Regions from separate parts of the Homo sapiens genome. Here region 2 is linked to region 1. Evidence: fine-mapped expression QTL. Tissue or cell type: prefrontal cortex. Region 1 holds a variant in brackets; the other region holds the start of a gene. All regions are shown on one strand. Distances are between the middles of the regions.

Region 1 (5,149 bases):
AAAAGAAAATAAATTATTATATAAAAAGATATCTGCACTCATATGTTTATCACAGCACTATTCACAATAGGAAAGATACAGAACTAACCTATATGTATATGTGGTATATACATATTCCATGGTATGTATATACCACATTTTCTTTATCCAATCATACATTGATGGACAATCATACATGATTGGATAAAGAGTATAATTGTCCACGAATGTATGATTGGATAAAGAAAATGTGGTATATACATACCATGGAATACTACTTAGCCATAAAAATGAATGAAATCATCTTTTGCAGCAACATGAATGGAACTGGAGGCCATTATCTTAAATGAAATAACTCAGAAGCAGAAAGTCAAATAACACATGTTCTTGCTCACCAGTGGGAGCTAACTAATATGTACATACAGACACAGTAAATTTTTTTTTTTTTTTGAGACGGAGTCTTGCTCTGTCACCCAGGCTGGAGTGCAGTGGGCTGATCTCGGCTCACTGCAAGCTCCACCTCCTGGGTTCATGCCATTCTCCTGCCCCAGCCTCCTGAGTAGCTGGGACTACAGGCGCCCACCACCACGCCTGGCTAATTTTTTTTTTTGTATTTTTAGTAGAGACGGGGTTTCACCGTGTTAGCCAGGATGGTCTCGATCGCCTGACTTCGTGATCCGCCCGACCTCGTGATCCGCCCGACCTCCTGATCCGCCCGCCTCGGCCTCCCAAAGTACTGGGATTACAGGCGTGAGCCACCGTGCCCAGCCCAGACATAGTAAAATTAGTAGACACTGGAAACTCAGAAAGGTGGGAGGGAAGTAGGTGAGGGCTGAAAAATTACCTAATGGGTACGATGTTCACTATTTGAGTGATGGTTACACAAAAAGCCCAGACTGCACTACTACGAAATACGTCCATGTAACAAAACTGCACGTGTATCCCCAAATCTACAAAAATAAGAAATATATAATTTTAAAAAAATAAATAAAACTACAAAATGTTCTCATGAACAACTGGGCATATCATTTTACAAAGACCCTCTGTGTACCATGCAACATGTACCACCCACTACACGGCTTCCATTTCCACTTGCCAAGGTCTTGATATTGTGATATCCATGCCCAGATAGCATCACTGACCTCTGATAAGGTCAGAATACTGTCCTACCTCATGTATGCACAGCATGTCTCTGGGCCAAGCTGTTCTTATGTATATTCTTGTCTCTGGTTTACATGGGGAAATAGGCCATGTAACAAGAAAGGTCATGAAGTCAGAGGACAGCACACATGAGGACCTCAAGGGCATTCCAACCATACATGGTTGTCCATTTTTATGGCTCATATATCTTTCCTACCATCTTTGAACTCATAAAGCTGAATGAAAAAATCAATACATTTCCTTCAATGTCAGAAAATTCTGTGCTCAATTAACAGTCAAAATATTATCTTACAAATAAGAATATCTCTATATACTGCCATGGAGTGAATTCCAGGATTTTTTGAAAAGTTAAGAAAATAAAGTAGATAGAACTAACTGTATATAAAATTTTAACACTACCTACATGGAGGGATATATAAATACATCCATGTTGGCTTAGTTATTTTAAATAGAAGTATGTTATGGGCTGAGTTGTGTCCTCTCAAAATGTATATGTTGAAGTCCTAAGCCCCAGTACCTCAGTGCTGTATTGGATTGGAGATAAGGTCTTTAAAGAAGTAATGAAATTAAAATGAGGGGTCTTTAGGGTGGGCCTCAATCCAATCTGACTGCTAGCCTTATAAGAAGAGGAAATGTGGATACACAGAGAGACACCAGAGGTGCACATGCACAGAGGGAAGACCATGTGAGGACAGCCAGCCAAGGAGAAAGATCCCAGATGAATCTAGCCCTGCCAACACCTTGATCTTGGGCTTTCAGCCTCCAGAACCGTAAGAAAATAAATTTCAGTTGGTTAAGCTACCCAGTCTGTGATATTTTGTTTGGCAGCCCTAGCAAACTAATATAAAGGGTAATTTTAAAAGTTTTATCAAATGGTTACCTATAGGGTGGAGGAAGGAGCAAGGTGGAAAAAATATGGATAAAAACTAAATTTCCTTGAATATGCTTCATATTATACCTTTGACTTTAAAACCAGGTCAATATTCAAGCCAGGTACAGTGGTACATACCTGTTGTCCCAGCTACTCAAGAGGCTGAGATAGAAGGATAGCTTGAGCCTAGAAGTTTGAGACCAGTCTGGGCAACATAGAGAGATCCTGTCTCTTAA[G/GA]AAAAAAAAAGTCAATATTACTTACTTGTTAAACAAATGAAGGAAATAAAAAATGAAATGGACCAGATGGTGCTAACTAAAGGCTATAGTTTGAATGTGCTCCCAAAGTTTTTCTCTTGAAAACTTAATTGCCATTGCAAATACTGTTAAGAGGTGGGGTCTTTAAGAAGTAAGTAGACCATGAGGACTCTGCCTTCATGAATGGATTAATGCTGTTATTGTGAGAATGGGTTCCCGATAATTTTAGCCCCCTTCTTCCCTCCCCTCCTTGTGCTCACTTCCACCTTCTACCCTTCCATCATGGAATGACTGTTGCCAGATGTTAATGTCATGAACTTGGACTTCCCAGTCTCCAGAACTATAAGAAATAAATGTCTTTTCTTTATCAATTACTCAGTCTTAGGTATTCTGTTACAGCAGCAAAAAGTGGACTAAGACACTGAATACCAAGTTGACGGCTTAATCACTAGAGAACAATTATCTCAAGTTACATTAAAATTTGGTAATTTGACTGTGTAGATGATGGAATATACACCCTAAGGGCCAAAAAACAAAAACAAAGCCCACAAGTAAAATTCAAACTGTTTTCAGTTATCACATTGTTAGTAATAAAACAGGAATTGAGATTCTGAAATAGGAATAGAAAGATTGAGATACATACACACACACACACACACACACAGAGGAATGACAAAGCAAATAAGTAATTACATTGATGTGACTGATATTCAGCATAGGGACCCAGGTAAAATCAAAAAATGTCCTACAAACAATAAACAACCCCAGGATCAGTGAACACTTTTCTCAATGAACGCTACTTTTTATGCCTTTCTCTTTACTTTTATACATACTTGAAATCTTGCCTAATAAAAACGATATAGGTGGATGGATGAATAGATAGATAGATAGATAGATAGATAGATAGATAGATAGATATTCTCCTCACATTGTTCCTACATGATTTACTAGTATGGGTTTTACTCTGAGCAACCCAACTGTGCACTCAACTCCTGCTCAAATTTTGAATAAGGGGCTTGTTCACAATTGAAGCAAGGGGTTCTGACTTTCCTTTTTATTTCTGGAACACCGGCTAGGTATTGGCCATAGACTAGGATTAGATGACCCCAAGAAATATCTCATTCCTCCAGGAACTATTTTTCACTTTTCCAGTTTTTACCCGGAAAGTTTACTTGGTTGATTAATTCTGAAGAATTTGCCTATCTGGGCTTACAAAGATAGTATACCCCTCCAAAATAAGTTTCCAAGTATGAAATGGAAGGAGAGACATAAATAATACTTAATAAGGGCCTAGAACATAGTAGTTCAGTTTTTAAAATCCCTATAACTGTTATTCTTCTAGATTTAAAAAAGGTGAGGTGTGGTAACTTTCCTGGTAGAGCAGAGATACGAACCCAAGGTTATCTGTCTCCAAAGCCCACACCTACCTAGAGTGGTAATGCCTTCTCTGGAATTAAATGGGAGAGTTAACCCCGCCATATCCACTCCAAATGCATAAACCTAGACTGTGGATCCAGGTTTGAGGGACTACTGGCCAAGACAAGGGACATAGACCCTTCCCCAGCTCCACAGGAAGCCCTGCAAAGACCTTGTTTTTTTTGTACAACTTAATATTCATGTATCCAAACTGGATCTCATTTGGCACTTGCCCCTCTTTTGCCCAGATTTGTATGACAGTATGATGATGGAGCCCTCTCCAAGGATGTGCGTCAGTTCTCTTCATAGAAAGACAGTCTCCTTCTTTGATACATATCAGGAAAGGTCTGATTACTAATTTATTGTGGATGGTTACAGCCTCAAAGTTAAAAAGAGAGAACTGGATCACTCATTGCAAACAGAAGTTAAATCTCCTTGTTCTGCTTGTAAAACTCAAAATTTAAAGAACTTCAGGTAATAGAAAAACTGGACTAAAACTAGACAATGAGGTTCCTAAGATCTAGCCAGTTCTGAAGAATGGACTCCATGATCCCACTATCTAAGCTGTCACCTTGTAACAAATCAGCCCCGGGCCTTTCCTTCCTACATTGGTATTTTCACACATGGTGCTAGAGTGTGCAGGATTTCGTCTCTGAGTGACAGAATCAGGCAGCATTCTCAATGACCCCTAACCTTCGTCGTACTGTAGATGATCTAGCTTTGTATCTGCACATCTTTGCTCCTCCTTTTATCCTTCTTTTTCTCTTTTCCACCATTATCAGGCCTGCCTCCCTGCCTCTCTCCACTCCCCAGGACCCACCTCCCAATAACTACTTAATTCAATGGGTACCCAGTGGCTTTCTTGCTGCTTATAATTCCTGAGGTCTCAAAAGAAAACTTCAGGCACAGCCCTTGGTTTTGCACCTGGTCAGTAATGCCCAGCCAAATTCTAAGATTCTTGGATTAAACCATGCCCATTGCTCAAGAAACCGAAAGAAGACTGTTCAAACAAACATGGTAAATGTACAAACAAATGAGCCTGACCCTATTAAAACATTTTTGGAAAGAAGCAAAAATACAGACACGTAAAAATGCCTAAGTTTTCTCCGTCTACTTCCACACTCACCTTCAATCCTTGCAGGATTTTTCCAGTGTTCAGCATCTACCAAAAGAATCAACCAGACCATGAAATGGGCTAGAACAGAGTTGGACAAAGCACTCCTTTTCTTCCCATGTATTTTCACTATGAGGAAAGGTAAAGAGGCAGCTGGGCTTTATCGCTGTAGAGGCCCTTCACTGCCACCTGACCTCGAGCCCCAAGTCAGGGCCCTCTCCATGCCCCTAGGGAGACTCTGCAAGGATTCAGAGCCATGCATTTTGCCCTGGGACTCTCAACATTAGCCTGGTCTCTAAGCCTGAGGCTCTTCAGTTCTTCACAGCATTGTACTGTAGATTCATCCAGAGTCCC
Region 2 (5,149 bases), 200 kb before region 1:
TTGACCTCTAAGATACACGTCAGTTGAATCAGAACTGTGTAGTAGTAGAATGCTTGGCAAATACAATGATTTGTAGAATACATTGATACATATTGTGAAGTGGTTGAGAGACAGCCAGCAGTTGCCACAGCTGCCAAACTCCAGAAGAAGGCTGGTGTTGGTGCAGGGCAGAGCTTAGGGCGAAATGTGGTGGGCTGGGGACAACACGGAGGAGGGAGATTTTTCTATTCAGTGCCCAGTTGACTCCACCGCTGAGGGCCAGTATAGTGAAGTTAAAAACCAGTTTCACACACTGTGATGAAATTCTATAAACTCAGGATTATCCTGTCAAATCAAGATGACATGCGTCCCATTGTTTAAAAACATTCTAATGGATGGAACTTAGCAAATACTGCTAAGAACAGAACCAGCCGGGCTATGCTGCAGCGTCTCAGACATGTTTCCACTCGCTGCTGCGATGTGTTTGTCAAAGAGTTTACTTAGAGAGCTGCAGAGCTATCAGAGAGGAGAAGAGAAGCGCTTCGCCCTCACTTGAAGAACAGTAACTGCAGTCAAGCAGAAGACACTTCAAACAAACAAACAGACAGACAGACAGACAGATCTCCCCACTCATTCTACTGGTCTTGTGCTTACCTTTCATTTTTCTTGGCCTCTTGCTTCCCCTCTCTCTGATGGCATCTTAAAGGACTCAATGTTGAAATGGTAGCAGGCAGCAGCCCATCTGAAGGTAGCATTAGCATTTGAGAGGAAAGATCTTGAGGACTGAGTGTGCTTAGCCACTGTGCACCTCGAACCTGCATTGTTCCTCGGTTTTCCTATGGAGAAGGATCCCCCTGTGTGGGACTGGCATCCTCTGAGGACTGCAGGACTGTACCTGGGTGATGAGAAAGGAAGCCAAGGCCATAGCACTATAATTGCAGTGCTCTGCCTTAAAGTCCAGCCTCGAGCCTGCGGCTCGATTTTCCAGTAAGCTGAGAGCATGGAGAACACCAGAAAGCCATTTCGGTTTCTGCTTATTTCTTCTCTACAGATTTTGAGGGTTGAAAAAGCACATTCCAGAAAAGGCAGTGGAAAATTCTAAAATAAAAGTGAGGCAGAATCAGAGTGAGGGGCATGTTGAGAATGCCCCTACCATCTTGAACGGAGCAAAAGATGGCTCATATGTTGACAGCTCCCAATCCCCCACTTCTGGAGCAGATTTTCCAGGGGGAAGGACATTACAGAGTCCAGATGCCTCTTCCATGATTCCAGCACCTCTAATGTTGTAAGGCCGTGTTATGAGCACCCTAAAGATGGCACTTCAGCACACAGTTCTCGAAATTCTGACCATTCTATCTTCTTTTAAATCCCTCTGTTTTTCCAAATCCTAAAGCCCTGTGACACACCAGCAGCCGGTAAGCGTCTTTCGAGAGAAGGAGCAGGCCAGCAGGGCCCCCACATCTTCTTTCCTCAGCTTCATCCCAGATGCCTGGTACTGTCTCAAGACTGCAGGCACTGAAACGTGACCCCGGTGTCTCAGGCTGAAACAGCAAACTCCCAACCGAGTTTTAAATTCTCAACAATTTGTGGAAATTATGAGATTTTTATGAGCATGTATTTTACAGGACTTCCTAGAATGCCTTTTTGAGAACCCTGGAAGGGGAGGAAGGAAATATCACCCTAGGGGAAGCAGAATTAAATGTGTACTCTCTCCTGTCTCTCTTTTTCTCTCCTTCCTTCCAGCCCATTGAGAAATCTACAAGCCATCCATCGTCTGACCCCGTAAATTTGTCTTTCTGAGGTAATAAGATGACACAGCCTTTGCCAGGTCAGATGCTACTTTCATAAAAAGTGCTGAGTTGGTGACCCAATGCCGTGAATAAGGATATAATCAAATTTCATATTTCTTCCTTGAGCTTCAGCAATGACGCCCACTTTTCATGGATTGTTACTCAGGGAGGACGCATAAATGCCTCTCAGAATCACCTAATTCAATCTTCATAACAACAGTCTAGGTGAGATGGCTTTGTCCCGTTGCAGGCGAGTTCCAAGCACAGAGAACCAAATGGTTTCCACAGAGAACATGTGTAGAAGGGATTGTAACCCACAACTGTCTGAACCCAAGCACTAAGCTTCAAACCAGACTCTGTGCTGCTTCTGCTTTATACACAGGCCCTGGCTGAAAACCCTTGACTTTACCAGGCATGCAAGGAGATGCTAAGTCCACTTTGGCTGCAGGTAAGAATTAAGTAGGACTAACCTGGGTGTTACTAATAAGGAGTTCAACCAGGGCCCAGCAATCAAGGAGGGCTTCGTGGAAGAGGTGGAACTTGGAGTGGCCTGGAAGAATCGCATAGAATCAGCAAAACCATGGAAACGACAATGAGCAGGGAACACACACAGGTCCCACTGTGACAGAATGCACATGGGTGATGAGCAGACATGTCCTCAGATGGGTAGGCAGGACCCTGGAAAACAGGAAATGGAGTCTGTGTTTGACAGCAGAAGCAACGGCAACCACTGTCATCTCATTCATTCATTTAATAATTGTTTATTGAGGGTATCATGTCAGGTGCAGTTCTTAGTGATAGTGACCTAGCAGTGAGTAAGCCAGGCTGAGTCCCTGCCCTCAAAAACCTCAAGATCCAGTAGTGGGCCAGATGGACATTCATGATGTTTAATAGATCAAGTAGAGTTCCCCTTCATTGATATCTATTTCTAAAGATGTCTGTCTTCCCTTCTAACAGATCTCTAAACGACCACGGCCCGAAGTGTCAGTTTCAAATGCTTGTTTCAGCTCTGCCCTCCCCACATCAAATCCCACCTCTCTCACGCTAAAGCATCATAATATATTTGTGCTGAGAGTTGCCTTAGAAATCATTCAGTATTCAGTTCACGGGGGAAGAAACAGAAAGCCCCTAGAGGTGACCTCATTAGCCTACAGTTGCCCTGAGAACTGGTGGCAGAAGCAGATTGGTGTCCAGCCTCCTGATGTACATGCCAGTGCTCTTTCCCCCAAGCCATGTGTCTCCTGGTCACGCCCTTTGTCCTTGCTGTCCTCTACTATTCTCTTCTGGAAGACTCACGATGAGAGAGCCGACTTCTCCAAGCTGCACTCCTAGCTCTCTGGGACCCAGCAGGGACCGCTGCCTTCCAGCCAGCAGTTTGAAGAAGGACAGCTACCATCAAACACAGACTTACAGCCTCCCTGATGCCCTGGATGCCAGGAAATGTCTGGACCAGTCAAGATAAGAGCAAGGCAGAGCCAGGAAGAAATGGGGACAGGAGTTCCTATTTAAATATATAAAGAATCCTTTCCTAGGTAGAGAAAAGTCATCTAGCAATGTGACTGATCACCTCTCCGTTTATCTGTTTGATCAACTGGAATTTCTATACAGAAGGTTTATACAAAGAAGCCACAAACAACCATTGTCACAATGACCCCTACATAATTCCTTGTGTAAATGCTCTGGAAATGCACCCAGAAGTCTGGAGAAGGTCCAATCAAACTGGGTGGCAGGAAGAAGCAAGCTCTGTTCTCAGATCTTCAACAGAATCACCTGGACCCTGGGGTTGCCACCACGCTAAGCCAAGGAGGCCTCTGAATGCACGGGAGTGCAGGGTCTGAAGGGAGTTGTTAAAAGGTGTTTCTTGATCCAGGACCATGTAAAGACCCAGGAGAAATAGGTATCCCAAAGAGAACAGCGTATAAGATTCACAAACCAATGACAAACACGCTGGGTTCGCTGCTGGTCTCCACAGTTGGTTGGTTCTGTAGGGCTCAGCTGCCTCTTTCTCTCTACTTCTGGTTTCAGAAAACACGAGAGAGAAGCCGAGTGCTCATGGAGTTTCCTCAAAGACTCAGCAAAAACTAGGCTTTGTGTTCTGAGATCAGGAAGTAACAGTGAGAGTCCAAAATTTTCTTCCCTGACAATGTCTCCTACTCAAGCAGGGCCTGGAAGTCACCCCCTAGAATCAAAGCCTTGACATATGCAAGCTCATAGTTTATTGCTTCTTCTCCCATCTGCCCGTTGACAGATAAATCCCAGAGGGAATAAAAACACATTGCCCTCAGCAGATTATTCTTCACTGAAGAATACCAGTCTTTTAACACTCCGCTACAGAAATAGCTTTCTGCCGGCTGATGGCTTGTTGCGCTGCACTAAGAGAGCCCGCACACCTCGAAGCTTCGTCAAGCAAAGCCTATGATTTCACAGACCCAGAAATGTTTTCTTTCTCTAAGCCAATAACATATGCTTGGGTTTATGCCAACTCTACCAGAGGCGCACAGATACAATGAGGCATGAAGTTCAGAATAATAGAAAGTAGAGAGTTGGAAAGCACAGGAGAACCCATCTAGACCAACCTGTTTTGTTGAAAAAGGAGCTCCCTGACCCAGAGAGGTTAAGGGTTTGCTGTGAGACGGTGCCCCTGGTTAAAGGCAGCATGAGATGCTGTCCTCTGATCCCCAGCTTCCTAGGGCTCTTGCCTCTAGGTCACACTGCCTTGAGGCCAGGAGCTGATATTGATTGAACAGATGTGAAAACAGAAGAAAAAAAAATTGTGGTGACTGCCCTCTGACAATTTTCCACTTTCTTTGGACCAATTTTCTTTGCCATTATCTGGAAAAAAAAAAAATGTCCAGAAGAGCATTTTAAATTCAGGAAGTGGTTCTGGAACTAGGAGAAGACACACCTTGATGACAGTAATATTGTCTAAGTGAGAAGGAACAAGCTCTTGAATGTTTCTAGAAAAACCAAATATGATAGGAGACCATAAAATTATACTTCGTCATATGGATTTCCAGTTTGAGAAAACTTAGTGGCTAAACAAAGGTGCCGCTTGAGAGATGCAGACAGAAATCAGCCTCTGCTTTAAGAACAAGTTGCTACGCTGAAGAATGAGAAGAGGAATGGGGCCCAGAGGCTGAAGGTCTGGACCAATCTCCCTTCCCAGATAAGCGCCTGGACCCTCGTTCCTCAGAAGCCACGTGTAATTACCAGCTCTTTTTGGCTACAGAGCACATGCCCAGGAGGCTTGGAGAAGCAGGAATTTAAAACATGCTAGTTTCAGAGCCAAGATTGGTGACAACACCATCAGTTACTGTTTGGGCTTCGGGAAGCCGTGGGCTGCAGCACTGGGTCTGGTGTCCTGGGCTGTGTGGGACCTC

Direction of the effects. Alleles are on the strand shown, and positions count from the first base shown. SD is a standard deviation of normalised expression in the study named.
In carriers of allele GA in region 1, the expression in prefrontal cortex of the gene that starts at base 2,253 in region 2 tends to be lower than with G alone (large effect, 0.77 SD a copy in CommonMind).

The links. PIP is the estimated chance that this variant, and not a neighbour inherited with it, causes the effect.
Region 2: LINC01622 starts here. The variant in region 1 is fine-mapped to the expression of LINC01622 in prefrontal cortex (CommonMind, PIP 0.95).

What each region holds. Positions count from the first base shown.
Region 1 is chr6:1,303,776-1,308,924 of GRCh38, forward strand. No RefSeq gene overlaps it. Among named protein-coding and RNA genes, the nearest start is that of FOXQ1, 5.7 kb to the right of the region's middle. The variant G/GA (reference allele first, on the strand shown) is at 2,248.
Region 2 is chr6:1,099,080-1,104,228 of GRCh38, forward strand. LINC01622 (long intergenic non-protein coding RNA 1622) reads right to left here and starts at 2,253. Exons shown (of 4, transcript NR_027116.2): 1 at 634-2,253. RefSeq lists enhancers at 1,365-2,564, 5,010-5,149.